7 linked regions of the Homo sapiens genome follow. The protein of the gene in region 3 purifies or fractionates together with the protein of the main gene of each other region. This does not show direct contact. Each region holds a gene or a part of one and is shown on either strand. Other genes may lie near its edges.

Region 1 (4,881 bases), on a different chromosome or scaffold from region 3:
ACACAACACTACTAATTGGGGAGAAGTCAGTTTTTCCAAGGTGTTGACAGGTATCTGGATTTCGGAGGAAATTGTAAAAAAGCAGGACCTGGGACAAATACTGGTCTTGGTTTTTCTTTGAGATCAAATCTGAGACAACGAATCTGTCCGAAAGCTGCTTTCTGCCTGGTCGTGGCAGAGGGTGGCCAAGGGGGCCTCAGCTGTGCTCCCACCACAAGGCTACAGGGTGTCCCCTTGTCCTGAGGCTCTTCCAGACATCTGGCTGAGCTTTGGTAGCTCTATTCCAAGCCTGGAGATGCCAGCTCCGTCCTTGGCACAGAATGCTAGTGATTTGCACAAGGGTGAGAGGCCAAAAGAGGCTAATAAAATGAAGACAGGCAAGCTCCATGGAATTAGACAACAGGACAACCTTGACCACTTTGAGGGGCGTGGTGGGGGCCGCAGGCAGAGGGGGTGGGTTACAGAGTGACTAGGAGAGCAGTGGAGGCTGCAGCAGGAGACAAGCCTGGCTCTGAAGACAGCGAGCCCTCCAGGGAACATGCGGTCAGGGGAGGTTCTGAAAGATGACACACTGCAGAGCGCATTGGTTTGTATGCTGATGACAAGTATCCAGTAGGAAAGCAAATGAACAGATTTTCATTCTCAGAAAGGCCTGTCCTGACCTCCTGAGGGTACACAGAGCACAAGGGGCAGGACAGGGAGGTGGATGCATGCTCATCGATTCATGCAAAGTCCTCGGCCAAAGTCCCCCTGCTCCCCACCTCTGGGACTTTGTCCTTCCTCAATTTAAGACATTCCGGGCTGGAAAAATGGATTATTGAGCAGGAGTTGGCTGATGCATTCTAAAGCTAATCCACTAAAAAGCACTTGAGAGATATATCAAAAGATCACAAAGAAATAGATGCTTTAGGCCCATATCCATGTCTTTACCCCGCACTTTCTGCCAACTTGAACTCTCATTTTCAAGAAGAGTTGTGTTTTGGTTAATTCTATATAGCTCACAGTGTGACTTCAAAACACACAATAAATCCACAAAGTGTGTCCTACAGTGAGTTCAGTTAAACTTTCTGAAGAGTTTTTTTGAAGTATAGCAGAGCAGGCTACAACTGATATTCAAAAAAAGAAAACTTCCATTTATTTCCCCCTTCAATTAAGTTCTCTGTGTTATGTTACTATGCTTCATAGCGCATCGCTGCTGAGATCCCCTCCCCAGCTCATGTCCCTAGGAAATATCCCAAAACAGAATCAAACTTTTCTCTTTTCAGTTTGAAATAATTTTCCCCCATTTTTTCTTCTCTTATTCACCTCTAGGACTCATATGGCAATAGGATTTGATAGGGCTTATTTGCTGGCAAGGAAACATCAAACAAATCTTTTAGTGGAAAAATACATTTATATTATAGGCAAAATGCAGATGTATATTGCTACTGATGCAAATGTATTTTATTAATGGTGTGAGAATTTCTTCCTCACTGTGGTGTGTGAATGTGTATGCATATTTGCATGTGTAAAAGACTTAATTTGTGAAATGGAAGATGTTTCTCCACTTCCCACTAAGCATGGCTGTAAAAGAAACTTTTCCCTCTCCCCGGGCATTGCAGCACACTGGAAAGATGATACATCCACAGAAAACCTGGCTTTCCAAAAGAGCTTATGAGAGAATGTGCCCACCAGGTGGGTTAAAACATATGTTAATCCTGTGGCAGAGAAGTTTGATCTAGCCTTTGGGTGTAGCCCACTGAATAAGTTCATAGTGATCTATGTCCTAGTTTCCATGCATTGAAATATAATATTCATACCCCCCAACATACACCAATTTCTTACAAAAATTTCTTTAATTTTCTCCTGCTCTGTATTTTCTTTGATAGCTCCTTGAATGGCTTCCACTAAATTCAAATGTATTTGACTCTAAAGTGCAACTTGTAAAATTTTATCTGGTAATTTATAGATTGAATTTCAAGCGTACATTATTTACATGAAGAACTACTAGCAAATCGTATGATTCCGTTTGTATGAAATGTTCAAAATGGCAAAGATATAAATACAGAAAGTAGATTAGTGGTTGCCAGAAGCTGCAGATTGGGGGTAACAGCTAAGGAGAGTGGAGTGCGTTTTTGGGGGTATGAATAGTTTTAAAATTTATTCTGATGGTGGCTGCACAACTCTCAATATCTTGAAATCCATTGGATTGTATGCCTAAATGGGTGAATTCTATATGTTAATTATATCTCAATAAAGCTTTTTTTTTTTTAAAGAAAAAGAAGTACTAGGACATGTTTAGAATATTCTTTCAAAGGCTTAAACAAAGCTGAAAAGTGAGAAGAGCCCTAGATTCCTTCTGGGAAACCTGGCTTAAATCCAGTTTTCTTTATTTCCCAGATCTGAGAATTTGGTCACTGAGCAAATAACATGATATTCCTAAGTCTGATTTCTTTGTTTATAAAATGAGGATGAATATGCTACCCTACCTATACCACGAGCTAAATAAGCTAGTATTTGTAAAGGATACACACTCACACTCACATTCACACACAGGTATGTATGTATGTGTAAAAATGTAGGGACCTAACCCAAGCAACTGAGTATTTGTTGATCACTATCTGCACACAGCATCTGGCAAATGGATGCGTGTGATTTTTCCGGGGATAAGAGGCAAACGTATACTGATGGAAAGCCTTCCTCAGGCCATAACAAAGGGAGAAATGCTGAGTCCCCGACCCTGCCGCCACCATGAACTGGTGAGAGAACGGAATATATTCAAAGAGATATTTCACTGTTTTAACTTGCAAGTGAGGGGAGCATGACACCGTAACAGAGATGATATAAATTAGTCAAACTGAGAACCAGGCAAAGAGCTTAGCCGTCCTTTGCATAATTAGCTACATTGGCTCTTTTTCAATTAGACTGGCCATTATGTGGGTGCACTCATTTAGATTTGAAAAATCACCCATTATTTTCTCTGCCCATTCATTCCAGCACCCTGACAATCTTCACAGGAAACTTAAACTTATTTCTTGAAGAATTCCTCAATCTTATACAAGATTTTCAACTGGAAGTTTCATGAATCAAAAATTAAATGAATTGCACATAAAGCCATGGCATATGTATTTTTACTACATTGTGGGAGAAAAAATAATTCTTATAATTTAAAAAAACTATGTCTTACCTGATTTCAGAAATAAAAGAAGTAGAAGAACCACTTCCTTATGTTCCATTTTGGGACTGGCCAGCAGTGCCCAGAAAGTGGGTCCCAATCCCAGGATGTTGTTGACTTACATGAGAGTAAACGCATCCACAAACCAGATAGTCAAATTAAGTTAATGATTCTCTCAGAGACCCATGCCACTGGCTCAGCAGGGTTCAAACATTACCTTGAATAAAGAGTCCTTACAACATGTTTGAGGGTGGAATCTGCAATAGATGCTGGGAAGTGGTGAAAGCAATCTCCCCCCTCGGCTGCTCCACGCTGCCGTCATGTCTCCTTATTCCTTCCCTCACCCTTGTACTTTATCTCTCGCAATTAGTCTTATTTCCTCCCCTCTTCTCTTATTCCCTTTCTTTTGGAGAAAATGAAATCATAAAAGTATCTCACATTTGCTGGAACCTTCCATGACGAGACCCTCTGCCAAGCGCTGCACGTCCATAGCCTCCCTCAAGCTTCCCAACAGGCAGGGCTGTTCTCATTCCTGCTGTACGAGGGATGGGGCTGAGGCCTTCCCCAAGGTTGTGTCTCTACCCAGGGGTGCAGCTGATAGACAAAACCCCTTCAGGTCTTAGATGACAAACTTAAGTTAGGTGTAAACGTTAATATCTCTACATCCTACACCAAATGACATAGAAATTACGACATAAGTGAAAGTATCTTATTATCTTCAAAATTTATTTATTCCCAGTGAACTCACATGTTTTCTGTAATTATAAATTATGTTATAAGACATCAATCTTTCCCCCAAATGAACGTATGCCATATTATTATATTCTCATTCTCATGAAATAAAGCAAGACTGGTAGCATTAAGTGGAAAGCGTCTATCTCAATTTTAAATGTTGAATCTGTACTTTTCCCTGGCTTAAGTCTAGAGCAACCAGGTAGTATATATGCTGTAAAACTTCTATTTTAGTGTTCAAAGATATTTAGGAATAAATCAATTGACCTCTCTATTTTAGATGTGAAATAAGGACCAGAAAGCATTGTTCCTCTTTCCAGGCAGTGAAATTCCTGCCTATTCATTAACTGGCAAAAGAGTAGAGGTGGGAGCCCAATGGTCTTGGGTGGAATGTCCTGCGGAATTCCCTGGGATTGAGGAACCATGCAGAACCCTCAAGAAGAAGCCACACTGGGCAACAAGAGGGTGGCCCCATGTGAGGGACAGGGGGACCGAATCGCTTTTCCTGATTTCCTATTTTAGCCTCACTCTCTTCTCTCCTCAAATTCTTACCACTCCCTTTATCCTCTCTGACTCACCTCATGGCCCAGTTCATTAAAGGGGACAGAAGGTGGAGGCAGATTGAGAAACCAGCAGTGGGCAGACATTTTATTTTTAATGTGAAATGTCTCTTAGGGGGCTCATGTTGATGTGCTTGAGAAAGTACTCTGGGAAAAAAAAATACTCTACTAATATATAATGCTTCCAGCATGTATTTATTTCCACTTAAAATATTATTGTAGCAGTTCCTCTTGGATAAGGCACCTTGGGAATGATGTTATCAGAAATTCTACATCCACATAATTTTCTTTTCCTGTTGTTTTGGTTTTGACTTGGGTGGTGTTGGTATAGCTTTTGCCCACCTTTCCCCTGGTAGTTGTTGGATGCATTAAATTCTACAAATGTGATTTTATAAATTAGTTGCCCTCCTAATGGCCTCCTGGCTGTACATTCTT
Region 2 (4,258 bases), on a different chromosome or scaffold from region 3:
TTGCTATTGCTGGACTGTTCAAATCCCAGAGCCGAGAGGAGACCCACATTGGCACAGCGTCTCAGGGGAGGTCTGGGGGATGGACATGGAGATGCTAGGGTCTCCTCTCAGCTCCGTCCAGCTGTTCTTTGGAGTAGGTGTGGGGAGGTCCCTCCCTGTTCACCTGTCCTGGGAGCCCAAGGCCCCTGCACCACCCCAGCCTTCCCACCTAAGGACCCTGGCAGGAGCCAGCAGATCAAGGCCTGACACCTCTCCTTCCCTTCGGGACCCCGGCGGTGTGGGGCAGGGGCTCAGTGGCCCTGCTGCTCGCCTCTGGAGCTTGGCCTGGCTGGGCAGAGGGGTTCCCCTGGGGTGACCAGGGTACCTCGAAGGGCGCAGATAGGGAGTAGTCGAAGGAGAGGATGAGGTCCAGCCTGCGGCCTGGCCGGAACATGGAGGGAGAGCTGGTGTTGATGAAGTAGGCGGCGTCCACCAGGCAGAGCCGGGGCTCCTTGGGGGTCAGCTGGCTGGGCATGGAGTCAAGCTGGTAGTCTGGTGGGAATCGCAGGATGGTCAGAGGCCACCACCCTGCCACAGGTCATCCATGTCCCCTTCTCTCCTCTGGGTCACTCCTTAAATGCCACCCAGCCCTTCCCCAGGACCTTCCAAGGGGATCGTCTCCAGGCCACACCCCAGAAGTGGATGCTGACCTCCTAGGCCTCAGCCAGTCCCTGCCACACCACCCAGAGGCCCAACCTTGTGACCTAGGGACCCCTGGCCACGGCCCTGACCTGCCCAGGTGGAGAAGTCTTTGTGGCTACAGTAGTCCTGGTGCAGCTGGAGGCCCTGGAGGAAGTTGGGGCTGCGCTGGTGGAGGGGCCTGCCTGTCAGGAAGCCTTTAAATGCCTGGGCCAGCGCCGTGCCTGGCTGCAGCCACGAGGCCTCCAGCCGCGAGGAGGTCCCCGAGGTGGTCAGGGGCTCCTTCTCTGAAGCCAGAGAAACAGAAATTGGTCCCTTCTTCCCCTTACTTCTTCCCCTCAGACACCGCACACCGCAAGCATTCTAAAGGAACAGCGTCATCCCAGGCCCCTCAGTGCCCCTGCCCTTCCCACCTAAGCTCCTGGTCTTGTCCTTGATGTGCTGTTTCCAGGACTCCCCAGAACTGGTGAGGTCATACCAGGCATCCAGCAGGTTCAGGGAGAAAATGTTGCTCCAGATGGCTGAGGAACACCAAAAGAGATCAGCCTCAGGCCCCAGCCAGCGGCCCCACCCTCAGGTACTGATGGAAAATGGGAGTGGGGCGAGGGCTACCCCTACAATGCATCCCCCCCGCCACCCCTCCCCCTTGTCCTGAGGTTCTGCCCCACCTGAGCTACAGGACCCATGTCCATTCAGACACCTGGCCCAGGGCTGCCCAGGGCCTTCAGAGCCACCACCCTCACCTTCCAGAAAGCAGATCCGGGGCTCCGGGATCCTCCTCATCAGCCGTCCCATGAAGAACTCGGAGCCGAAGAGCTCAGGAGGGACGAAGGCCCCGTACTTCAGGAAACCGACCTCATAGGGGGAGAACTCAACCCACTCTAATGGGGTGGGAAGGAGAGGCAGGAGTGTGAGGGGAGTGGATTGCGGGAGTCCCCAGCTCTGGCGAAAGACACTGCCCCTGCCCCCAGCAGGCCTGAGCCCTGCTGTGCCTGGCACCAATGCAGCAGATGTGAGGAATGGGCAGTCCTGGACTGACCACACCCCTCCCAGCCCTTGGTCCACACCCTCAAGCACTACCCACTCTCAAGCACAGAGAGATGCCCTGAGCCCCTCAGCACCACTGCCCTTCCGGAACATTGGGCAATCTGTGCGGAGCTTCCAGCATGAATTCTCTGGGGGCTGTCGGGGTGCAGAGGGTTTGGGGGGTGGAGTATGTGGGAGGGGAGTAGGTAGAACTGTACCCTTGAAGTCCAGTGTCTCCAGATTGTTCTCTTTGACATTGAGGCTCAAGTAGAGGGGCAGAGGGTTCTGACCCCGTTCCAGGGCGGCTCTCTGTCCTGACAGCTTCTGATCCATCACCTGGGGCCAGAGGGCATCAGGGCCTAAGTGAGGCTGGGAGTACCCTGGAGGCAGTGGCTCCGCCAGGACAGGGGCAGGATGGGGGACCTGGCTGGGGGTGAGGAGGCAGCTCCTCCCGTGGGGTCTGGGGACCATATGTGGGTCAGTTCCCACTCCTGCCCCTGTGTTCTGAACAGCCCTAGATGCAGGGTCGCTGGACAGGGCATGCAGGCTGTGTACTATGAATCTCCAGCGAGGGCCATTCATAGGGACCACAATGCCAGCGGTGCTTCCAGGCCCATCTTCGTGGATTTAAGGGTGAAGTGGGTGTGGATACTGACACACAGACACAAGGACACATGCACACATCCACGTATTGCTTTGTAGAAAGGATGCAGCAATGCCCTTTTAGCATATACTGCAACCTATGCCAGGGGATGGACTGCCCCCTCTTCTAGGTTCACCTTAATGCAGTTCAAGTTTCAGCTCCTCCCGAATGCTTTCCTGACATCCTTGCCTCCCCCTCATCGTCCCTCTTCTTTCTTGCTTTGCATAACATGAGGTTGTACCCCATTGATTATTCTTGCCTTCTGTTCTTAATTTCCTCCTCAATAGAGCTCCAAGCTCTGCCTTTGTTTTATTTTATTTTGAGACAGGGTCTCACTCTGTCACCCAGGCTGGAGTGCAGTGGTGCAATCTTGGATCACTGCAACCTCCACCTCCCAGGCCCAAGTGATCCTCCCACCTCAGCCTCCCGAGTAGAGTAGCTGGGACTACAAGTTACACTTGGCTAATTTTTGCATGTTTTGTAGAGATGGAGTTACATCATGTTGCCCAGGCTGGTCTCAAATTCCTGAGCTCAAGCAATCCACCTGCCTTGGCGTCCCAAAGTGCTGGGATTACAGGCGTGAGGCACCATGCCTGGCCCAAGCTCTTTGATGGCAACGACTATAGCTTGCCTTTTGGGGGAGCCTCCACAGAGCCTCCCTGAATTGTAAGGGAACAGAAAGGCCTCATTCTATGCTGAGCTAGAATTGCAAATAGAGCTCTTCCCAAGCACCAGCAAGGCGAATGGTGGTGCCTGCCTGGAGCACCACCTTGGGAAGGATTCTGCCGCCAGAGCTGAGGTTGATGCTGTCAGCCCTGGGCTGTTTCTACTGGGCAGTATGTGTACCATGAATACGTCATCCTTCCTTTGGGCTCTCCAAGATGGAAGAGTGTCTAGTTCTAGAGGCTCCCAACCTGCCGCAGCAGCCCTTATCATCAGAGTGACTCAGTGAATGTGTACACGTGAGAGCATGTGAAGCATGCGGACTTCTGGGTCTCCCCTGAGAATCAGCCTGTCAGAAGTCACTTTGGAGTTTGCCTTTTAAAAACCCTCAGATGATCCTGATGCCCAGCCAGGTGTGAGGATTCCTACCCAGCCTACCCAAGGAGGGTCCCTCTCCCACATCCATGGCGAAACTCAACACACCCAGTGTGTGTGTCCTCCTTGCTGGCAGCTCTTCTGTCCCTGACGAGAACACTCATGTGTCAACCACAGTCATCCTTCCACCCCATTTTCCAATGGTCCCCAGTATGAATTACAGGGAATTTGCAGGAAATCTCTAAATAGGGCTCGATCCCCTGCCACTGATGGTGGTGGTGTACGTACGAGTCAGTCCTTAGGTACAAATGTGTGTACGTGACCCCTTCTCAAAATCTTTTTATTTAGAAACTCTGTTGCTCTTTTGATACATATGACTAGGGAAAATGTGTCCTTTTACTATAGTTGCACAATTTATGCCCTAGGGAAAGTTCTGGAAAAAGGTCAGCACACCCCTCCATCTACTGAAACCCACCCGGTATATCTAATGGCTCACCAGTAAGCTGCGGCAGGACTCTCAGTCTCTAACCCCCCAGTTTCCAAGCAAGTAACCCCAACCCTGCAGAACACCATTCTGATGATTCGAGGGTCCCATGGGAAACACTGGAGCTTGGTGCAGTACCGGCAATGCAGACTAAAGGGAAGGAAAGTGTGTCAGCTCTTAACTCAGGAAAGGATAAGAGAACCACTCTGAGTTTCTCCTTGAGGAATGATAAGCAGCTTCTAAGCAGTTCAGTACTTGCCAGCAAAAGACTGAAGAAAAAAGTTTCGAAGAGATGAGAGTTTGAGAAGCACTGATTATAGCTAGTGTATTTTACGAGCGGGTTTTTATAAAAACCTAATCAATATTAAAGATGTATGTAGACTAATAAA
Region 3 (4,258 bases):
AATGGAAAAACATTCCATGCTCATGAACAGAGAGAATCAATATCATGAAAACGGCCATACTGCCCAAAGTAATTTATAGATTTAATGCTATTCCCATTAAACTTTCATTGACATTGTTCGCAGATTTAGATAAAACTATTTTATGGAATCAAAAAGAGCCCAAGTAGCCAAAACAATTCTTAGCAAAAAGAACAAAGTTGGAGGCATCACACTACCAGACTTCAAACTATACTAAAAGGCTACAGTAACGAAAACAGCATGGTACTGGTACAAGAACAGATACATAGACAGATGGAACAAAATAGAGAACTCAGAAACGAGACCACACAACTACAACAACTTGATCTTTGACAAACCTGGCCAAAACAAGAAATAGAGAAAGGATTCCCTATTTAATAAATGGTGCTGGGAGAAATGGGTAGCCATATGCAGAAAACTGAAACTAGACCCCTTATATTACATACAAAAATTAACTCACAATGAATTAAAGACTTAAATGTCAAACCCAAAACTATAAAAATCCTAGAAGAAAATCTAGGTAATACCATTCAGGACATAGGTATGGGCAAAGATTTCATGATGAAAACACCAAAAGCAATTGCAACAAAAGCAAAAATTGACAAATGGGACCTGATTAAACTAAAGAGCTTCTGCACAGCAAAAGAGACTATCATTAGAGTGAACAGACAACCTACAGAATGGGAGAAAATTTTTACAGTCTATCCATCTGACAAAGGTTTAATATCCACAGTCTACAAGGAACTTAAATTTAGGAGAAAAAAACAACCCCATTAAAAAGTGGGCAAAGGACATGAACAGACACTTCTCAAAAGAAAACATACATGCAGCCATGAAACATATGAAAAAAAGCTCAACATCACTGATCATTAGAGAAATGCAAATCAAAACCACAATGAGATACTATCTCATGCCAGTCAGAATGGCTATTATTAAAAAGTCAAAAAACAACACATGCTGGCGAGGTTGCAGGGAAAACAGAATGCTACTACACTGTTGGTGGAAGTATAAGTTAGTTCAACCACTGTGTAAGACAGACTGGCGATTCCTCAAAGACCTAGAGGTAGAAATACCATTAGACCCAGCATTGCCATTACTGGGTATATACCCAAAGGAATAGAAATCATTCTATTATAAAGATACATGCATGCATATGTTAAATGTGGCACTATTCACAATAGCAAAAACATGGAATTGACCTAAATGCCCATCAATGATAGATGGATAAAGAAGATGTGGTACATATGAAATATTATGCAGCCACACAAAGGAATGAAATCATGTCCTTTGCAGGGACATGGATAAAGCTAGAAGCCATTATCCTCAGCAAACTGACATGGGAACAGAAAACCAAACACTGCATGTTCTCACTTATAACTGGGAGCTAAATGATGAGAACACATGGACACAGAGCAGGGAGCCACCACACACTGGGGCCTGTCAGGGAGGTGTGGTAGGCAGGGAGGAACAATAGCTAATGGATGTGGGGCTTAATACCTAGGTGACAGGATGATCTGTGCAGCAAACCACCATGGCACATGTTTACCTATGTAACAAACCTGCACATCCTACACACGTACCCTTGAACTTAAAAGCTGAAGAAAAAAAAATTAGCTGGGTGTGGTGGCACATGTCTGTAGTCCCAGCTACTAGGGAGGCTGAGGTGGGAGGATCAACTGAGCCCAGGAGGTCCCGGCTGCAGTGAGTCAAGATCACACCACTGCACTCCAATCTAGGTAACAGAGTGAGACTCTGTCTCAAAAAAAATAAATAAATGAATGAAAAATGAATACGCCTTGAAAGAAAAAAACAAGAAATTTCCTTCAATATGTTAGGATGAGGGCGACTACATGGGCAGTATGCACAAAATTCATTCCTAGGTTTGTTCAAATTTAGAATCACAACTGATTCATTGCAACACACATAATTGCAATATTGCTGGTATCAGTAATATATTTTTAAAAAACGTAGTGAAATTTTTTTCACAGTATTGCCCAAGAGACTTTTTACTTAAGAAAAAAAAAACCCAAATTATATGTAGTTGCCAAAACACACATACACACAAGTCCACACACACACCCCTATATATTATTTATAAAACTGAAGTCATTGTAAGTAACATTTATATTTATTTCATTCATTACTATCCTGATATTGTGACTTTGCATTAAAAATGCATAAGCAAGTTAACACCTGGAGAAACAGCTGTTGGTGTAATGACAACATTCCTAGAGCTAATGCCAGAAGATCTGGGGTCAAATATGGAGGCCATCATGTACTAGTATGTGGCCTTGGGCAAATCATACAACCAGTACTGTAGAGCTTCTGTTTCTTTATCCATAGATGGCAAAAAATTCCACTTACATTCTAGAATCACCATCAAGAATAAATGAAATAGGGTATTATGTTAAAGCGTGCAGTGCATCACCAAGGTTTTTCACTCTCCTTTCCTCTCCTTAATGAGATTTTCCTGCCCTTAGAGCTAGATTCTATTACTGTGTAATTATGAGGTGCATGTAACAATGTCCAAGAAACTAGATGGTAAATAACCCCAACATGCAAACCGGAATGCACACATTGTTAGTTGGCCATCACGTAGATCCCAAAGGTCTCTTGCCCATTATCTGTTGCTTCCCAGAAATTTGATAGATTTTCTTTCCTGAAACAGCCAAAGTTATCTATGGGCTTTGAAATATCACCATCATGATATTGCCACAAAGCAGCTGGTTGATTGAAAGTAACTCCCCCTCCCCCAAGCTCCAGCTGTCACCAGGAAACCCTCTTCAATGTGTGAAAAAGACAATGTAATATCACTAACTACCACTATTAGTAACAATCTAACAAATACTTAGCATTTGAAATTATTTTTCTTATGAAGGCTCATTATTAACTAAAAATTAACTCTAAAAAAACACTTTACTATATAAATATAGAGTAGTTGCTTCCATACAACAAAAAAATGATAGGGCTATAAACACAAGTAATACACTTCCTTTGACTCCTTGTTTCTTTTTCCCCGAGTCATTTGTAATCCTAAACAACAGTCAGTTAAAATGCCAAATAGCTTTTAATAGCGATACAGCTGTCACAACTTGGAGGGATTTTTTAAAAAGCTAATTCCTCAAAAAAGTGCACAGAATCCTACTTTGTAAAATACGGGTCAGGTGGGTTTTTTTTTTTCTCAATAATCACTCACTCCTCTGCATGAGAAGCCATCCATATGGTGACATGGCTGACAACCTTGGAAATTGTCTTCAGAACAAGTTTGTGAATCCCACTTACCAGAATTCTTAATACCATTACGTTTTAGGTATAGCTCATGCCCTGAGGATTTCTATTCCACCACAGAGTTTCACGTCCAGCTCCCCGGAATCCGAGGTTCCCTAGGCACGCCTCCTAATATCGCTGCCAAGGACCAAGAGCCTGTGCCCTTCAACCTCACTGTTCTTAAAGCTTCTCGGCTCCTGAGTTTTACAGGTAAGATTCTGTTTAAGAGGCTCCCTGTTGAAAAAAAATATGAGGTCCATTGCTTACGTGGCTATGACTGCAACATAAAAGGAAATCTACCTTTTAAAGAATCGCTTCCGTTTTTAATAGTTTTTTTAAAGAACATTTACATATACATGTACGTATCTAATTTTACATATATAGAAAATTTCCTTTTATACTTGGTCCCCACCCCCATATTCCAATATACTGACAAATAAAATTATGACCTAGTGTGAGTCAAGTATTTTCTGCACTCATACATTCATATACAATATAAACACACAGAAATACATGTAAGAGATTTTGTTATCCCTTATTAAAAAATGTAATGTAAAACTTTTCACTTTGCTATTAAGAATTCGTGTTTTAAAAAAATATTAGCAATTTCAGGGCTAACAGCATTTTCTCATCCTTTGATGCATACCTTCAACGAGGTCTCATTTCCTGTAACAGTGTCCCCTTCTCTAGCTGACTGTCCCCATTAACTAACAGAAGATACTTTATTACTCATCCCCTGACCTTTGGATGTTTACCTTGCTGTAAACATCCAAAACAATTTCTACAAGTTGCTCTGTTACAGTGATAAAACTGAAGATGGTGTTTTTTCACGTTAAAGTTTCAACTTTTTTCAAGTGTTTGTTTTTTCTCATTCACAATAATATGAAAGCTTTGACTCCATTTCAGCATTTTATGGTTAAAAAGAAAAGCAGTGCAGTTAGGTAATAAAATTACCTCATTTATAAAAATATTA
Region 4 (4,258 bases), on a different chromosome or scaffold from region 3:
AGGAGAGTGTTCAAGAAAGAAAGACTGAACCAACTTACCTATTTCCAGGAAACCCACTGCCCGAGACCTGATCTCCTCCGTCAGCAGCCCTGCCTTCTCCAGGTACTGCAAGACATAGATGATGGGAGCAAACAAGACCATGTTCTGCTCGCCACAGCCACTGGGCATCTGCACCAGACCATCCAGGTTCTGCAGGGCTGTGCCCATAATGTCTCCTGGGATCCAAAAGGAGAGAGAGAAGGTAGGGGTACAGAGAAGAAGGGACCCTCTAAGAGTTATCATCATTCACTGAACAAACACGTATTAGCTATCATTTAATAAGTACCTACTATGGGCCGGGCGTGGTGGCTCACGCCTGTAATTCCAGCAGTATGGGAGGCCGAGGAGGGTGGATCACCTGAGGTCAGGAGTTCGAGACCAGCCTGACCAACATGGACAAACCCTGTCTCTACTAAAAATACAAAAAAAAAAAAAAAAAAAGTACCTACTGTGTGTCCTGGGAAGACCACAGTAAATCAAACTCGGTCTCTACCCTCAAAAAAACTCACAGAGGAGCAAACCATTACAACACATTACAATTTTTATTCATTATAAACAATTTTAATACAGTACTACAATGTCATACTGGATATGTACGAGGTGCTAGGGGACACGGAGAGGCACATAAGCTATCTAAGAGAGTTCAGGGCTTTTAAGAAGACATGTCACTGAGCTGATGAGTGATGTGACAAAACTTATAACACTTAGGATCAATCTCTTAAGCTCCTCTACCACTGCATGTACGTTCCTCACCCTCCAAATCACCAAGTTTCTCTAAAACACAGTTCTGACACTCTTTTCCAAGTTGTCACTGACCCCTTCATATACTTCCCAAGCCAGTGAACCTGACATAAGTGACTCATTAACATCTGCATTGTAGCCAACAAGCTCAATTCAATCTATAAATGTGTCCTGAATGTCAACTATGTTGCAGGAACTGTACTAGGAACACAAAAGAAAAAGATGTGGCCCTTCCTCTTCAGGAGCCCCCAACACAGTGTGGAAGACAGATATAGACAGTGAACTCTAATACAATAAGATAAGTGCTATGTCAGACTTACGAATAAAATAGACAAAACAGAGACACTGTGACTGCAAAGGATCTCAATAGAGGGTGAGGGAGTAAAGAAAGAGCCTAACATTCATAGGGCTCCTACTACATGCTAGATATTGTGCTGGGGACTTTATATTGCATTTAATCTTTACACCAGTCTGAGAGGTAGGTTATTATCACTGTTTTACAGAAGAGGAAAGAAGGCCCAGAACTGTTCACTAACTTGTTCAGGGTCACATGGCTATTAAATGACAGGTTAGATATGATTTCTACGTTCATGCTTTTCAACCCACTTCCTCCCTTGCCCCAAACAGTAAGTGTGCTGCCTATTGTAAATATGGTTGTATCTTCCCTAAACTATACCCAAATTCCTCAGTTTTGAAAATGGTTGCTGCAAATATTCTGTTTTCCCTTCACCCAATTTATAGACTGTCTAAACCTAAAATCAAGCATCAGCGACCTTACCTTCTTCCTACCCTGACTCTCTTCCATTTTTAACTAGAGTACAAGTCTAATCCCATCTGTACTGTTGCCTACACTGTATTTCCCTCCTATATAAAATACGCTCTTTTTCCTTCATCACTTGTTATTAGTTACACTCTCCGGATAGGTCCGTATGTCCCGCCCCACTCCACACCTTTGCAGCCTCCATTCGCCTTTTCCTTTCTGAGTCAAGAATCTCTAACTGCTTACCCAGAACCGTAACATAAGCCTTGGTCGAGTCAGGAACAATGTCCACTGGGAGCTCCAGGGAGACAGATTCAGATGCCACCTTTCCTGTGAGATGCAGAAAAAAAGGTGACACAATAGAAGATGGGGAATGGCAGGGGTTCTCAAGACAAAATTTTAGAAGAACTTTCTATAATCCAGGGATTTCTGTACTCGGTGCTTTCTCTGGGATGCAGAAAGCACTGGGTACTATTCATAGTGATCTTGCTGAAAATAAATTCCACAGAGAGTCATCATCGTGCTGCACACTTTCTCTTCTTCCTCCTGCCTCCCAGTTAATCAGCCCCATGAGGAATGGCACTTCAGACTCTCCTATTCCTTCTGGTACTATGCATTCCTCCTTTTGCCTATGAAAATCTCCTGCTGCCGGGTGCAGTGGCTCACGCCTGTAATCCCAGCACTTTGGGAGGCCAAGGCAGGAGGATCACAAGGTCAGGAGTTCGAGACCAGCCTGGCCAATATGGTGAAACCCCATCTCTACTAAAAATACAAAAATTAGCCAGGCATGGTGGCATGTACCTGTAGTCCCAGCTACTCAGGAGACTAAGGCAGTAGAATCACTTGAACCCGGGAGGCAGAGGTTGCAATGAGCTGAAATCGTGCCACTGCAATCCAGCCTGGACGACGGAGCGAGACTCCGTCTCAAAAAAAAAAAAAAAATGAAAAGAAAATCTCCTGCCCTCTAAGGGAATTCTCACCACCAATCCTGCTCTGAGTCCACCCACCTTTTGGGCACAGCAATGAGCTGTGTGTCTTCTCCACCAGGACTCCCTCAGGCTGCGATGAAGAGAGACACAGATAAAAACAACAAAGATGAACATCAGGAGGGATGGCACTAAAGGAAAGGGAAGGGAGGCCCCTCGCTGTGCCCCCAGGGCTTCCCTCAGAACTGCAGACAAGAGCTTCTCACTGAAGCTCAGAAGAACTCTGCGTCAACCCAAGGATGGGCCCTTTCTGTAAAGTTCTTTCTGGGCAAGTGCTAGAGCCAAAGACACATTTAGGCAACTTCTAAGAGGCAAGATTGACAATGGGCTTCATGATGGGACGAAAAAGGCAGCTATTGATGAAGACAGACATTTTAATTAGGTAAACTAACATTTGTTGAGTGCCTATGAGGTGCCGGGTTTTAGGTGCTTTCATAGGCCGTGGGTGTGGATTAGGCAAATGTTCAAGGGGCCAGGGAAGGAGAAAGTTGAAGCTGCCTGGTTGGACTGGAGTATGGTTGCTGTGAGAGACTAACTCACAGCAAGACGAGATGCTGAGCATCCCTCGGTTGGTTGCTGTCTCTACCTCTGAAGAAAACTCACTTTGACGAGAACTGGCTTGATGAGCGTGTCACTTCGGCCCTTTTGGGGAACAAACCCCTTCTGGCCCCCACATGGTTCATTGCTGTCCAGAATCTTTGTACTAATAGTAAAGTTAATGTGACCTGAGAGAAAGAAGAAGGGAAGCCATTAGCCCTATTGCCAGAGGTACCAGTGAGGTCCATTCCCATTTGGATCAGCATTTCTGAAACTTTAATGGGGATCTTGCAACAGTGCAAACTCTGCTGCCATAGACCTGGGGTGGGGCCCATATTCTGCATTTCTAACAAGCTCCCAGGTGATGCCAGAGAGGCTAGTCCAGTGTGGTAGGTAACCTCTAAGGGCCCTCAGAGATCCCTGCATCCTGATATTTACATCCATTGAGTGTGAGCTGGATTGAGTGACTCGCTTCTGTTAAAGAGAACAGGGTGAAAGTAATGACTCTTCTGGGATTAGGTTACAAAAAAGACTGCAGCTTCCATCTTGGGTGCACCCCTTTTCTCAAACTGCTTGCTCTGGGGAAGACAGCTGTTGTGTGATGAGGCAGCCCAGCAGAGAGATTCATGTGATGAGATACTGAGTGAGGCCCCTAGCCAAAAGCTGAGGTCAAGAACTGTGTCCTTCAGTCTAGCAGCCTGTAAGGATCAGAGACTTTGGGATGAGCTTGAAAAATCAATCCTCTCCTAGTCGAGTCTTCAGATGAAACCAGAGTCCTGACTGACAGCTTGATTGCAACCTCATGAGATACCTTGAGCCAGAGGTACCCAGCTAAGCTGCACCCAGATTAATGACCCATAGAATCTGTTTGATAATGTTTGTCCTTTTATGACACTTAAGTTTTACAATAATTTGTCAAGCAACATGAGATAACTCATACATATGAAAATCAAACTTTGAGTTGCAAGGATTTAATCTATGAGTGACTGACATCCCATAGGGTTGGGGGTGAGGATTAAACAAGTTAAAGGTGCAGTGACTCATTCTTGTAATCCCAGTACTTTGGAAGGGTGAGGCGGGAGAATCACTTGAACCCAGGAGTTTGAGAACAGCCTGGGCAACAGAGCAAGACCGCTTCTCTGCCAACTGAATTAGCCAGGCATGGTGGTGGCATGAGCCTATAGTCCCAGCTACT
Region 5 (4,258 bases), on a different chromosome or scaffold from region 3:
TGAGTTTCTCCCCATGGTAGGCTACATTATCGTCTCCTGGCTAATAATCTCTAGCCAGGAGACACAGTCTGCACACCCACAGACATTGTACTAATATGGTACAATGGTTTAAAAGGCCAGTTCAATAATCTATTATTAGATTACTTGCTAATCTCCCCTTCCCTATAAGAGCATTGTACATCCTCTCCCACTGCCTGGTGGCTTGCAGAGGGGCATCCTTTCCCATCCTACTGATGTCAGTCTTGATCAGGGGGTGCTCTGGCCAAAAGAATGCAAGTGGGCAAGACATACAGTACTTCAGAGAAGCTTTAAGAGGCATTGTGCATTCTTGCTAGCTCTCCTGCTCCTTCTCTCTGCCACAAAGATAACATATCCCAAACAGGAGCTGCTCCTTCAGCATGTATCCCTGAATGAAAAAGACACAGGGAACAGAAACTCAACAGCCAGCTAACAGCTGCTGACATGTAAGCAAAAGAAAGTAAGCATGAGCAAGCAATACAAATAAATGCTTGCAACAAAACTAGCTGACAAACTTATCATTTTGAGGATACACACTGAAGCTGGAAGCAAGATGCTAAGGTGCCAGAGACCAGGCTGCCTGCACACCCACAGGAAGGACAAAGGCTGGCCATGGATAACTCAGAACCACGTCAGAGGTACCCGGAGTCCAAGATTACTACTTACCCTGTCCATAAAGCCCAGGCTGCTGGGCACCGTAGGAACTTGGAGGTGGCTGACCATAGGGGCCCCCGGGAGCTGCACCGCCATATGGTCCTCCTGGAGTTCCAGAGGGGAACATCCCAGGATTGGGGTGTCCATAGGGCCCTCCACCAGCTGGTGGTCCATAAGGCCCTCCAGGGGCAGGACCCCCATAACCACCACCAGGGGGTAGCCCACTACCATACTGCCCTCCACTATTGGGGGGTCCAGGGTAGTAGCTACCCGGAGGGGCTCCTGGTGCTTGTCCTGCAGCTCCTGGGCAGCCCTGCAGGAAGAGCAAGATATCAGTCAGAATGATGAGGCCAGAAACTAGGCAGAGTATGGCACTTTACAACCATAAAGCACTTCCACCACCATCCTTTCAACTGATCCTATAGGTAGGGTTGGAATTATGATCTCACTGCTCAGATGGGCAAACTGAGGCTTCCAGAGGAGCAACGAGTTACCCAAAGTCACCCCGCCAATGACCTGCAGAGTCAGGGTTGAAATCCTCCTTTCCTAACTCTCCTTTCCTGCACATCAAGGGGCTCCACAAGGGCTAGGATCCTGTCTGGTTTGTCACTTTATCCCCAGCTCCCAGTGTAGAATGGATACTTGGTAAATATTTCCTGTATGAATGAATAGGCAAATGAATCAAACAGAATTCCAAATGCCCATCCTGTGGTACTCCCATCTCTATCTGCAGAACTCATGGGGCAAACGCAGTCTCTAACACACACCCCTGACCCTCATCAGTCACAAATGACATAGCTATAGCATGGATTCATCCACAGCATGTCTTCCTTACCCTGATGTAAAAACATTTCCCTATCCTCACTCACAACTCTGTGAGGCAGGCAGGGGAGACCCTATTCCTAAGGCAATACGATACAATGCTTTCAAAGGCCAGTTCAACAGCTAGGCGTGGTGGCTCACAGCTGTGTAATCACAGCACTTTGGAAGTCTGAGGCGGGCAGACTGCTTGAGCCCAGGAGTTAGAGACCAGCCTGGGCAACACAGAAAAACAACATCTCTACTAAAAACCTGGGCAACATAGAAAAACTACATCTCTATTTAAAAAATACAAAAATTAGCCAGGTGTGGTGGCGCACACCTATAGTCCCAATGACTCAGGAGGCTAAGGTGGGAGGATCACCTGAGCCTGGGGAGGTCGAGGCTACAGTGAGCCATGATCACACAACTGTACTCCAGCCTGGGTGACAGAGTAAGATCCGATCTCAAAACAAACAAACAAACAAAAAACAACCAGTTCAAGAGTTCAAGTTCAGGTTCTGCCATTTACTAACTGGACTGACTTATCCTCTCTAAGCCTCAACATCTTCTGCTATAAAATGGGAATAATAATAGCTACCTCTCAGGTTAGTTTGTGAATGAAATGAGGCCAGCTATGTGAAGCCCTTTGACATTGGGCCTGACACAAATTAAGCACTCAATAAACACTATTAATAATAGCCTCCTACAGAGGACAAGACTCAAGTCCAGGAAAGTCACACACAGGCTGTGTGGAGGGGCTGGGACCAGAACCTGGGTCTCTTGGCTCTATGTCCAGGGCATTTGTGCATTAGAGCATACATGGGGGCATTCCCTCTCTCATCCATCTTCCCACACCAGTAGCCCTCGGAGTGTTCCGCTCCATCTCCCTAAATGGCTAGCACAGGACCCAGCAGAGCACAGCCCCAACACATCTGCAGACAAGCTGAGCTCAAGGGCACAGACAGCAGCTAGGCCCAGCTCCGAGAACGGCACCATCTAGATACGTTCTAGATCAACCTGTAAGTGCACCAGTGGCCAAGCCACTGAGAGCCTGGGCTTTCTCTTTTTATTGTGTTTGATAGCTTGAAATAATTACTCTTAAGGCTAAGGCCAAATTCATGAGGTTTTTTTGTGGGGAGGGCAGGAAGCAGGCCCTGTCACCCACTCAGCAATCCTTGGGAGCTTTTCTACCCTAGAAGCTGTCATAGCTACTAGCAAGACTCCTTCACAGACAAGAATGGCTCACACAGATCTCAATTTAAAACTCTGCTCCCATCAGCTAAGTTCATGACTGTGGGCCCGTGGCTTCATCTCTCTGAGCCTGCTTCCTCACAAATAGAACAATTCCTTCCTCACTGGACTGTTCTGCAGATTATAAAAAATAAATGCAGCAAAATTCTGTCAGTTTAATTTTTAGCTAAAGAATCCTTTGATAACCAACCTGGGCAACATAGTAAGATCCCACCTCTACAAAAAATTTTTAAAAATCAGCCGGGCATGGTGGTACACATGTAGTCCCTGCTACTCGGGAGGCTAAAGCGGAAGGATCACTTGAGCCTAAGTTGGAGGCTGCAGTGAGCTGTGATTGTGCCACAACACTCCAGCCTGAGTAACAGAGGGAGACCCTGTCTCCAAAAAAAAAAAAAAAAAAAAAAAAGAGAGAGAGAAAGAAAGAATCCTTTGATAAAATAAATAAAACAAATACAAGAAAGTTGCTCTGGCTGAAGTAAGGTGGGAGCTCCAGAGCCCCTACAATATGGAACCCCCTCCCTTGCTACATTCTGAGGGGGCTCTGAAAACCCCTCACAGTGACTGAAAAGACAGTCTGAAAACCACTCACATAAGAAAAATAGTTTTTACAACAGTGCCTGGCATAAAGCAAATGATCAGTAAGTCATAGCTGCTATTGCTATATTAATTACTGTTATCAGCAAAGTCCTGGGCCAGGTGAACTGTGCGGGGTGGGGTATAAAGGAGAGTGAAGCAATCTGAAGGCACTCACAGTTAACAAGACTTAACATGTAGACACTGTGTAACGTCTAACAAAACAGCATAAGGAAAACAGGTGTTTGAAATGGAGACATAAGTCATGTGCCATAGGACTGCAAAGGAAGGAGGGTAAAATCAGGGAGTGTTTCCATGAGAGTGGCATTTGAGCTAGGACTTAGAGAACGAACAGGATTCCCAAGGGGTTGGAGAGGTGTGACAAGAGAAATACCCAGAAGACAAGTCACTTAACCTAACCCCCATTTTACAGATGGGGGAGGGAGGGAGGGACTTGCCCAAGTAATGCTGTGAGCTGGAGGAAGAGACAAGGCTGGACCACTCCCTTGCACCCAATGACTCCCCCTGCCTCCTGCTACAACACTCCTTCATTAAGCAATAGGGCTCAGGATTCCAGCATAGGATGGAAAGGGAGTGGGAACTCTGCAGAATCTGGGCACACCCAAAGAACAGGCCAGACACGAAGCCAGAAGTAGCTGCCCCACTATAAGCCCTGTGAGCAAAGCTATAAACCGCACCTGGCACCTAGGAAAACCCACCTAGGAAACCACCTATAAACCACCTAGGAAACATCCCCAGGCCAACAAAGCAGGTGCTGCCAGGCAGGTCTCCTGCCCTTCTGGCTATTGTAGTCTGGCAGCAATTAAACCCTTTCCTTTCTGTCCTGCATTTGAAGACCTCCTCTGTAGTTTACAAAGTACTTTCACAAACACAAACACTACAGGCAGAATCTTGCCAATGGCCTCCTAACAGAAAAAAGGAAGATGTTAGTTGCCCTCTT
Region 6 (4,258 bases), on a different chromosome or scaffold from region 3:
GGAACTGAATTCAGCCTGAGGATTCTTATCAATACCATATTAACAGATGAACACAATACTGAAGATAAAACCTATTTGCTGTCTTTGTTATAAACTGTACACATTGTGTGTGTGTGTAAATACAGAGGTGTGCATATATACATACATATAAACAAAACACACATAGAATTAATAGAAAAAAGATTGAATATTAGTATTCAATCAGTTATTCATCATGTTGGTAGTATGGATGTTTTTGCTTGTCAGAAAATTTCCAATTTTCTACCATAAATTTATTTTGTAAAAAGTACATAAGAATAGCTTTTTTTTAAAGATTGCAAGACAAAATTTTTAAGATTGGAAGAGATATGAAGGAGGGAAAAAATGTAGAAGGGCAGCAGGGACAGAGCCACAAAGACCTAAAAGTTCATAGGCAAGGTGGCCTGAAACCCTCAGAAGAAACTTATGGTCACTGTTCAAACTGGGTGGCCCTAAAAATTTCCCAAGTGGAAATTAGTTCTGGGAAGAATCCTGAGTGCACCACATGTAACACTGGTACCAAATCAAACCTGCTCAGGCTAGAATTTTGAGTATCTTTTTATAACAACTATTTTTGTTAGTACACAACAGAGACAGGATTAAAGTATGGAAAGAGGACCTTCCACCCAGATATAAGTAAAAGTTGGAAACAAAATCTGTACTTTGTTAACTAGTTTATTTTTCTACTTTGGTAGTATCGTTATTTTTGTGCTCTCGGTTTCTGAGTACAGGTTATTTTGAAGAAGTTAAACACAAACAAATAAACGAAAATATCTACTTATTGGTCTAGTTGTTGTTAAGGGACTCTGTTTCTCATGCAAATTATGAGAAATAGATAATCTTACTAAGCTCATTATTTTGTGTCTGAGAATTAAGAAAAAGTCTAAACTGTAAAAAAAGCATTTCTAGAAAAGTAAAGTGAACTGAAATGTAGAAACGAATGATGCAGACTAAGGGGCCCAGTGAGGGCAACATAGTATGTAAAACGAATACCTTTCAGAACTCGTGGTTTGAACTATTTTCTTAAATATAGTTAGATGCTTTAAAATATAATATGGTTTTAAGCATTTAGTTTAATAATTTGGAGCTGCCTCAAATAATTTTTAGAATGAGTCTAGTGGATAAATAAATATATTAATGTCACATACATATGCATTAAACCATAATTGATGCTTTATCCTTACCAGTTGGGGAACAAGTTTGGTGTATCTGGCTTTACCTGGCTTAGAGTTTTTATTCTGACTTACTTAGCTGAATATCAAATTGCACATCCAATATGCTTTGTTATAAGGACCACAGACTAGACACACAGTACTTATTTATGTGAGGGAATAAGCTTAGCAGAATTAATGGATCAAGGGAAAAAAAAGTAAAGTTAACATGTCTGCTGTAATCTTACAATACATTCTGTTACTCTCCTGGAAGTCTTCGTTGTCTTTGTCAACTTTCTCTGGTTCTGAGCAGTAGGTTTTAATGTTGTCTTCTAGGTACCAGCTGAAATTTTCATCCACCACAGAAAACATCACCACAAATTCTCGGTCAATATGTTTTTCTTTTTCTTTATCTAGAGAATCTGGAGTTAAAGTTACTATTTTAGCAAGACTAAACTTTTAGCATGTATTTTGATTTATGTTTTCAGGTGATTTATAGTTTTTAAAAATGTTAGTATTTATTTTTTCGAATAAATCACAAGTCTGGACCAGTCACTCCTGTTTTACAGACAGAAACACTCAGGGAATTTTTATGATCAGTATCTGGTGCTTGGAAGACACTCCTGTGTCTGGATGTCCACTGACCACATAACTATTAAATGCTTTTTGGCAAATGGGAAGATTGGAATTCAAAGTTGTGCGTCTATTTTCTGGTGCATATAGCCACAAACAGAGACAAGTCTTTACAGGTAACGATTGTTCAAGTTAGAATTGTATTTCAGGCTCTTGAGCTCCGTTGTCTTTTTCATGATGTTAGAAATAAATACTATGATATTATGTTTACCAATATAGTATGAGTAACTACAGATCTATCACCGTGGAGTGCCCTTTTGGTAGTCACATTTGGTAAAGTCATATGTCTCTTCAGCACCACTGTTGGAAGTTAGATACAGCAAACTGAACCCTGAGAGAATATATTTCTTTCACATTACCTTCATTGGCATTTTCCCCGTAGGAATGCTTGTTCTATTTATCCCTTCTTCTCCTAGTCCTGCCTGGCTCTTCCCTTCCTTTTTTTCTACTTACCACCTCTCTACCTTACCTGCTCAATCTCAGCACAGAAGACTTGATTTCTTTTTAAAAGACAAACTGCCCTGCCCCTGTCTTTTGGTCATATAGCATGTGCAATAAGGAGAAGATGTACCTTTTTTACAGATTATTAAAGGTCCGATGAGTCCTGAGGCAATATCTTTTGGAGCATCAATGTGGGAATGGTAAATCCTAGTCACACAATTGCCATCTCCTTCCCCAGGACTTTGTTCTTCAGTGGCAAGCAACATGTATGTATACTGCTCTCCTGGATATACTTTGTCATCTGCTCTTTGAAAATCTGTGGTGTTATCAGGGTAGATGGCCCCTAGGAAGCAACATGCAATGAAGGTGCAAAGTGAATGTGTTTGAACTTAAATGAGAGAATAGATAGTCCATTAATTCATTCAGCAAACATTTATTAAACATCTACTATGTGATCCTTGGGGATGTGTTATCCTATTTGGACACAGGAAAATGAAAGGCTAATGGCTAGGGTGTGTAGAAGCTTCACAGACATTTTTATTATTTTTTTATATTTGATTGGGTTTTCAGAGAGCATAATGACTTTTTGTTTGCAATGTAAAGAACTCGGGTCATGGTATGGGAGTCTGAGCAAAAAGGCTACCCTCTTCTAAATTCAAAACTTCTTATATGATCTCAGATTTTTGCCCACGAAGTAACCATAAAATTAAAAACATTTCTACTCTCAATTTTGGAAATTTCCAAACACACACAAAGGTTGAGAGAAGAAAATGCTGAACCTCTGTGTACCCATCAAACCAGCTTTAACAATGATCGACTCAAGGCCAACCTTGTTTCATCTGTACCCCCACACACTCTTATCCCCAGTATCATCAAATTATTTTAAAGCACGTCTCAGACATCATATTCCATTCATAAATACTTGAGTATGTATCTCTAAAAGATAGGAACCCTTTTTTTCTTCTAACAAAACCACAGTTCCATTACCATACCTTTAAAATGAATGGTAATTCCCTAGTAAGCCATGAAATCATTAAAAAGAAATAGGATGGCAGTCAGCCTTTTATGCTATGAATGTAATTTATCCCTAAACAACAACAAAAACAAAAAAAGTCAACACATTCACTTTCTAAACCAATATCTCTTTTAATAAGACAACTAATAATGAATCAAATCTAATTTTAAATTAATTTCCCTATTCGATCATTATAATTTCAATGAACTGTAGCATGACTTCAGCATTTTTGCTTATGATAGCAGCTGATAGTTATTGAGGTATTACTATGTATTCTTATTATCTCTATTTTATAGATGAGGAAACTGAAGCTGAAAGAACTTAAGTAATTTGTCCAAGGTCACTCAAACAGTGAAAGGCAAGGCTGGGGCTCAGACCTTTGTCTATTAATTTCAAAGCCCTTGCTTTTCATCACTACAAAATACCACCTTTTTTACCATCATTGTTAAGGACTAAGAATGAGATCACAGGCACCAAACCTTATCTTTGTTTTTCAGGTACTATTTTCAAGGCTTCCAAGTCCTACATTCAAATGACTTTTTCAGTTAATTGTGTCTCATATGTGACTACAGTCATCCAGGCATATGTACCATTTGACTGACATGAGACTACTTATGCCACCTTAGCTGGGGCAGAGTTTATATAAAGTTAGGATGGGAGGTAACAACAGCACAGTATGTTTACATGTAGGAACTTCAAAGATAAGGCAATCCACATCTTGAGTCCTTCTTTCTCTTCCCTCTGGATTTTGCCTCTTCTAGGCTCTGATGCACTTTGTCCATTTCTCTTATTCTATTTGGCCAGAAAGGACTGGGCTCTGGGAAAGAAGCTCCAGCTCTCTCTGACTCTCACTGAGTCCACCTAGAAATTCTCTCACATTCACACTTTCCACGAAAGAGCACAACCAAGAGAAACATGCCATTATTATATGGAAACAAAGTACCTATTAATAAAATAGTTGGCCGGGTGCAGTGACTCACGCCTGTAATCCCAGCACTTT
Region 7 (3,653 bases), on a different chromosome or scaffold from region 3:
TGGGCCCTCCCCACAAGGACGCCTTGTCCTCATGGACACAGAAACTGAGGCAGGGCGGGGTGCAGGGCCATCCAAGTTCCTGCTGACGCCCGGTGGCTGGGCGAGACTTGCACTGTCTGTCCTCAGGATCCCCCCTTTCTGTTCCACTCGTTGAATGGTCCAGAACGCACCCCCCAACACCAAGTCTGTGCCGCAGGACGGCCGTTGTCCAGCAGGGACCCACGGGCTCACCCGGGCCGCCGCAGACCTGGCCGTTGTAGCGCTCACAGTTGATGGTGTCACACTCGCAGTACTGCCCGTATATCAGCTTGCCGGGGACGTCGCTGGTGTGGCACAGGCACTGCCCGCAGACACAGTCCCCCAGCCCTGAGCAGATGATGGAGTTGTTGTCCTTCCGGCAGCTTCCTTCCAGCTCCTGGCTGCTCCGGCCCTGTGTCTGGCACTCACAGTTTTTCCCAATGTAGCCAGTGTCACACCTGGGGACAGGAGGGGCCCCAAGGTCAGGCTCCCCCCAGTGATGTGGGACAAGGGACAGCCGCCCTGTCCTCCAGGCCCCTTGCCCTTGGTGGAGAACACCCCTATGGCACATTTTGCTTTCCTCGAGGCCTACTGAGCACTTGCCACGGACTAAATGTGCTCAAAACGTGCAGGGGCCCCGCGTTCCCTCCCCAGGATGTCCCGAGGGGAAAGCAGACACCTGGCCTTGGCCTGCGCATGCAGTGGCTCGGCAGGCTCACTGTGGAGCTGTGTTGCAGCCATGCACATGGCCTGTGCTGCGATACCGGTGCTCTGTGAGTGGCTGGTGTCTGCTCCTGCGTGCCCCACATGGTGGCCAGTGGGGACTCGGCACTGCCTCCTGCCACAGCCCCGCCCTCCCTCCTGCGTTCGTGCACTGACAGGCCAGGTTGTGGGAGAATGCAGGGACAAGGGGTTTTTACAGATGTGGAAGCTGGCATCAAGCCGCTGGCAGGCAGGAGCCACACACACCCTGAGGCATCCTCAGAGACGGCACTGCCACGGGCTCTCCTGCTCCCCAGAGGAGGAAGCTGCAGGACCGAGTGTCTGAGTACCTGTGGCAGGGCACCCCCCGACACCTGCCAAGTGTTCCGACTGAGTCACCCCTACAGTCCCGTGAAGAGGCCGCCCCAGGGCTGCACACCCAGGACAGTGGGCGGGGTGGCCACTGAGGCACGAGGACAGCAACAGAGACCACCAAGACCACAGAGACCATCATTGTCCTGAGATATGGGAGGAGGCTGGGGGCAGCAGGGACCTGAAGGTGAGGAAGGGCACTGCCACCAGGACGTGGATTGGCACTGCGGTCAGGACAGGGGAGGAGGTGACCAGAGCAAAGGGGGCAGAGTCCTGGGAGGTCAGCCTAGCAGCTCTGGCCAGGCAAGCAAGGAAAGGGGGACAGCCATCCAGCCCCCGGGCAGGCCGCCTGGCTGAGTGCCATGTGAACCTCCCCACTGGGTCCACCTGTCCCCCACTTCTCCCTGAGGTGGGGTGCCCACGCCTGGCAGGGGGTGTGCACGCCCAAGAGGTGGCCTATGGGGCCCAGGCTCCCAGAAGCCATCACCTGTCCCAGGAGGCTCTCTAGCCACCCATGCCCCAGGGCTGCCAGCCTGATGGCCTTGGGTCCCCAAGGTCAGAGAGAAGCCAGCTCCTAGGGTCAAGGAAGGTCGGGCAGAGAAAGTGACCCACTCAAGGCCATGGGCACGCCCAGCGGGGACTCCTTGTGCCCCTGAGATGGGCCTCCATCCTCTGGTGAGGGGGTCCTCCTGCCCACAAGTCCCCTGCCTTGGGTCCTCCATGGCCAGAGAGTGTAGAGTACAGGCTGGCATTGCTGGTGCCCTGGCTCAGGAGCACGGGTGAGGGCTTGCCGAGGGGTTCTGGGTTCCAATCCCAAATCTCCCCACCTCCTGCAGAAGGGGGCCCCCAGGATGCCTGCTCCGTGGGGTGGGGGAAGGGATGGAGCCACCTGCACCCACCTCACCTGCCGACACCTGCCCTGTGGGGTGGGGCTCGGGGATGGTTCAACAGGGACCTGCGCCCGCCTCACCTGCAGATGCCGCACTCCAAGAAGCCCTTGCCATGGCAGAGGCTGCGGTCTCTGCTCTGGTCCCGGCACCGGCACTCACACTGGGGAAGAACCTGCACGGTCACTATGTCCGTGAAGCCCAGCGCCCGGATGACAAACGACTGCTCCTGGATGCACTCTGTGGCCGTGACCTTCACCTGGAAGGTGATCTGCAGGGCAGTGCTGGGCTCAGGTGGGGACCCTCGGTGGCCAGGGTGGCAGCCCAGCTCCCAACCCTCACCTCCTGGCCTCTGCAGGGGTCCTGGGGGGTTCAGCGTGGGGAGGAAGGGGTGACCAGGAGCAGGAAGAGCTGATGCTCAGATCCGAGAGCCAAAGTCAGCCGGCAAGGAGGTGCTCTGCCCGCACTCCCGCACTGGCCGGCACCAGGATCTCCCCGGCCACACATCAGCAGAGACATGTGACACGCAGACAGCAAATCAGGAGAAGCTGAGCACACTCCCACTCAGACCACCCAACATGAGGGAAACGTTCTGGTGAGAATCCATGGGACAGCTGGGCGCCGCGGCTCACGCCTGTAATCCCAGCACTGTGGGAGGCCGAGGCGGGTAGATCATCTGAGGGCAAGAGTTTGAGACCAGCCTGGCCAACATGGCGAAACTCTGTCTCTACTAAAAATACAAAAATTAGCCGAGCGTGGTGGCACACGCCTGTAGTCCCAGCTACTCAGGAGGCTGAGTCAGGAGAATCACTTGGATTGTAGTGAGCCAAGATCGCACCAGTGCACTCCAGCCTGGGCGACAGAGCGAAACTCCATCTCAAAAAAAAAAAAAAAAAAAAAAATCCACAGGCAACATTTACCAAGAAACATGTTTGAAGGAATTCCAAAGTCATATTAAGAAAATGCAATGAAAGCAAGTGTCTTGCTGAATATTATTTCACAGCTAGCAAAAAAAAAAACAAAAAACAAAAAACAAAAAGAAACAACAAATGATTGGATAATAAACTTAAACCTGAAAGATTAGAGAAGGAACTCAGTGTCCATTCCTAACCACCTGTGTGGCCCATGCCTTAATGTTTCTGTCAAAAAAACAGAATGAAACACGCAGAAAATCATGACAACTAACCCTACCCAGGTTTGCCGTTTGCGCCTGTTCTGTGTGTCCGGCGTCTGCCCCCAGGGGGCGCAGCCATCACTCCATCCCTCAGTCTGCAGTGGCCTGACCCAGGGATTTGGGCTCCAGGTTGATGAGTAGGACTCTTGGGGGCCAAGGCGTGTGTGAAGAACCCTCCCAGCACCCTCTCACTGAGAAGCACCCTCTCGGCACCCTCTCACTGACGTTCCTGACATCAGCTTCACAAGGAAAGCGTCTGGCCTCGGCAGAGAGGATGTGAAGGAAAGAAACAGGGTCCTTCCAGTGGATGCTGCCTGCTCCCAGACAGCCTCTGATGCCTGTGTGCCCCTCCCTGCCCCCGTCAGAGTGCTGGGATGGGGACCCTGGCTCCTTCTGGCTGTCCCCAGGACCCCTCAGTGTGCTGGGATGGGGACCCTGGCTCCTTCTGGCTGTCCCCAGAGCCCCTCAGCAAGCTGGGATGGGGACCCTTGTGGCCAGGC

Evidence for each region.
Region 1: the proteins of RHBDD1 (region 3) and PLG purify together in Homo sapiens (affinity purification with mass spectrometry; one large-scale study listed by BioGRID and IntAct). This does not show direct contact.
Region 2: the proteins of RHBDD1 (region 3) and PLA2G4D purify together in Homo sapiens (affinity purification with mass spectrometry; one large-scale study listed by BioGRID and IntAct). This does not show direct contact.
Region 4: the proteins of RHBDD1 (region 3) and A2ML1 purify together in Homo sapiens (affinity purification with mass spectrometry; one large-scale study listed by BioGRID and IntAct). This does not show direct contact.
Region 5: the proteins of RHBDD1 (region 3) and PEF1 purify together in Homo sapiens (affinity purification with mass spectrometry; one large-scale study listed by BioGRID and IntAct). This does not show direct contact.
Region 6: the proteins of RHBDD1 (region 3) and CP purify together in Homo sapiens (affinity purification with mass spectrometry; one large-scale study listed by BioGRID and IntAct). This does not show direct contact.
Region 7: the proteins of RHBDD1 (region 3) and ITGB2 purify together in Homo sapiens (affinity purification with mass spectrometry; one large-scale study listed by BioGRID and IntAct). This does not show direct contact.

What each region holds. Positions count from the first base shown.
Region 1 is NC_000006.12:160,700,639-160,705,519, reverse strand, and holds the start of PLG (plasminogen isoform 1 precursor), read right to left. Parts: upstream 3,277-4,881; 5' UTR 3,216-3,276; coding exon 3,167-3,215; intron 1-3,166. UniProt on the Homo sapiens protein: Plasmin dissolves the fibrin of blood clots and acts as a proteolytic factor in a variety of other processes including embryonic development, tissue remodeling, tumor invasion, and inflammation. In ovulation, weakens the walls of the Graafian follicle.
Region 2 is NC_000015.10:42,070,353-42,074,610, forward strand, and holds part of PLA2G4D (cytosolic phospholipase A2 delta), read right to left. Parts: intron 2,041-4,258; coding exon 1,923-2,040; intron 1,560-1,922; coding exon 1,422-1,559; intron 1,200-1,421; coding exon 1,092-1,199; intron 966-1,091; coding exon 771-965; intron 532-770; coding exon 365-531; intron 1-364. UniProt on the Homo sapiens protein: Calcium-dependent phospholipase A2 that selectively hydrolyzes glycerophospholipids in the sn-2 position. Has a preference for linoleic acid at the sn-2 position.
Region 3 is NC_000002.12:226,838,670-226,842,927, reverse strand, and holds part of RHBDD1 (rhomboid-related protein 4), read right to left. Parts: intron 3,520-4,258; 5' UTR 3,301-3,519; intron 1-3,300. UniProt on the Homo sapiens protein: Intramembrane-cleaving serine protease that cleaves single transmembrane or multi-pass membrane proteins in the hydrophobic plane of the membrane, luminal loops and juxtamembrane regions.
Region 4 is NC_000012.12:8,853,121-8,857,378, reverse strand, and holds part of A2ML1 (alpha-2-macroglobulin-like protein 1 isoform 1 precursor), read right to left. Parts: intron 3,252-4,258; coding exon 3,130-3,251; intron 2,600-3,129; coding exon 2,548-2,599; intron 1,871-2,547; coding exon 1,787-1,870; intron 216-1,786; coding exon 39-215; intron 1-38. UniProt on the Homo sapiens protein: Is able to inhibit all four classes of proteinases by a unique 'trapping' mechanism. This protein has a peptide stretch, called the 'bait region' which contains specific cleavage sites for different proteinases.
Region 5 is NC_000001.11:31,634,538-31,638,795, forward strand, and holds part of PEF1 (peflin), read right to left. Parts: intron 986-4,258; coding exon 685-985; intron 407-684; coding exon of another isoform or gene 309-406; exon of another isoform or gene 129-308; intron 1-128. UniProt on the Homo sapiens protein: Calcium-binding protein that acts as an adapter that bridges unrelated proteins or stabilizes weak protein-protein complexes in response to calcium.
Region 6 is NC_000003.12:149,207,794-149,212,051, forward strand, and holds part of CP (ceruloplasmin precursor), read right to left. Parts: intron 2,587-4,258; coding exon 2,374-2,586; intron 1,592-2,373; coding exon 1,418-1,591; intron 1-1,417. UniProt on the Homo sapiens protein: Multifunctional blue, copper-binding (6-7 atoms per molecule) glycoprotein. It has ferroxidase activity oxidizing Fe(2+) to Fe(3+) without releasing radical oxygen species. It is involved in iron transport across the cell membrane.
Region 7 is NC_000021.9:44,889,747-44,893,399, forward strand, and holds part of ITGB2 (integrin beta-2 isoform 1 precursor), read right to left. Parts: intron 2,251-3,653; coding exon 2,063-2,250; intron 477-2,062; coding exon 232-476; intron 1-231.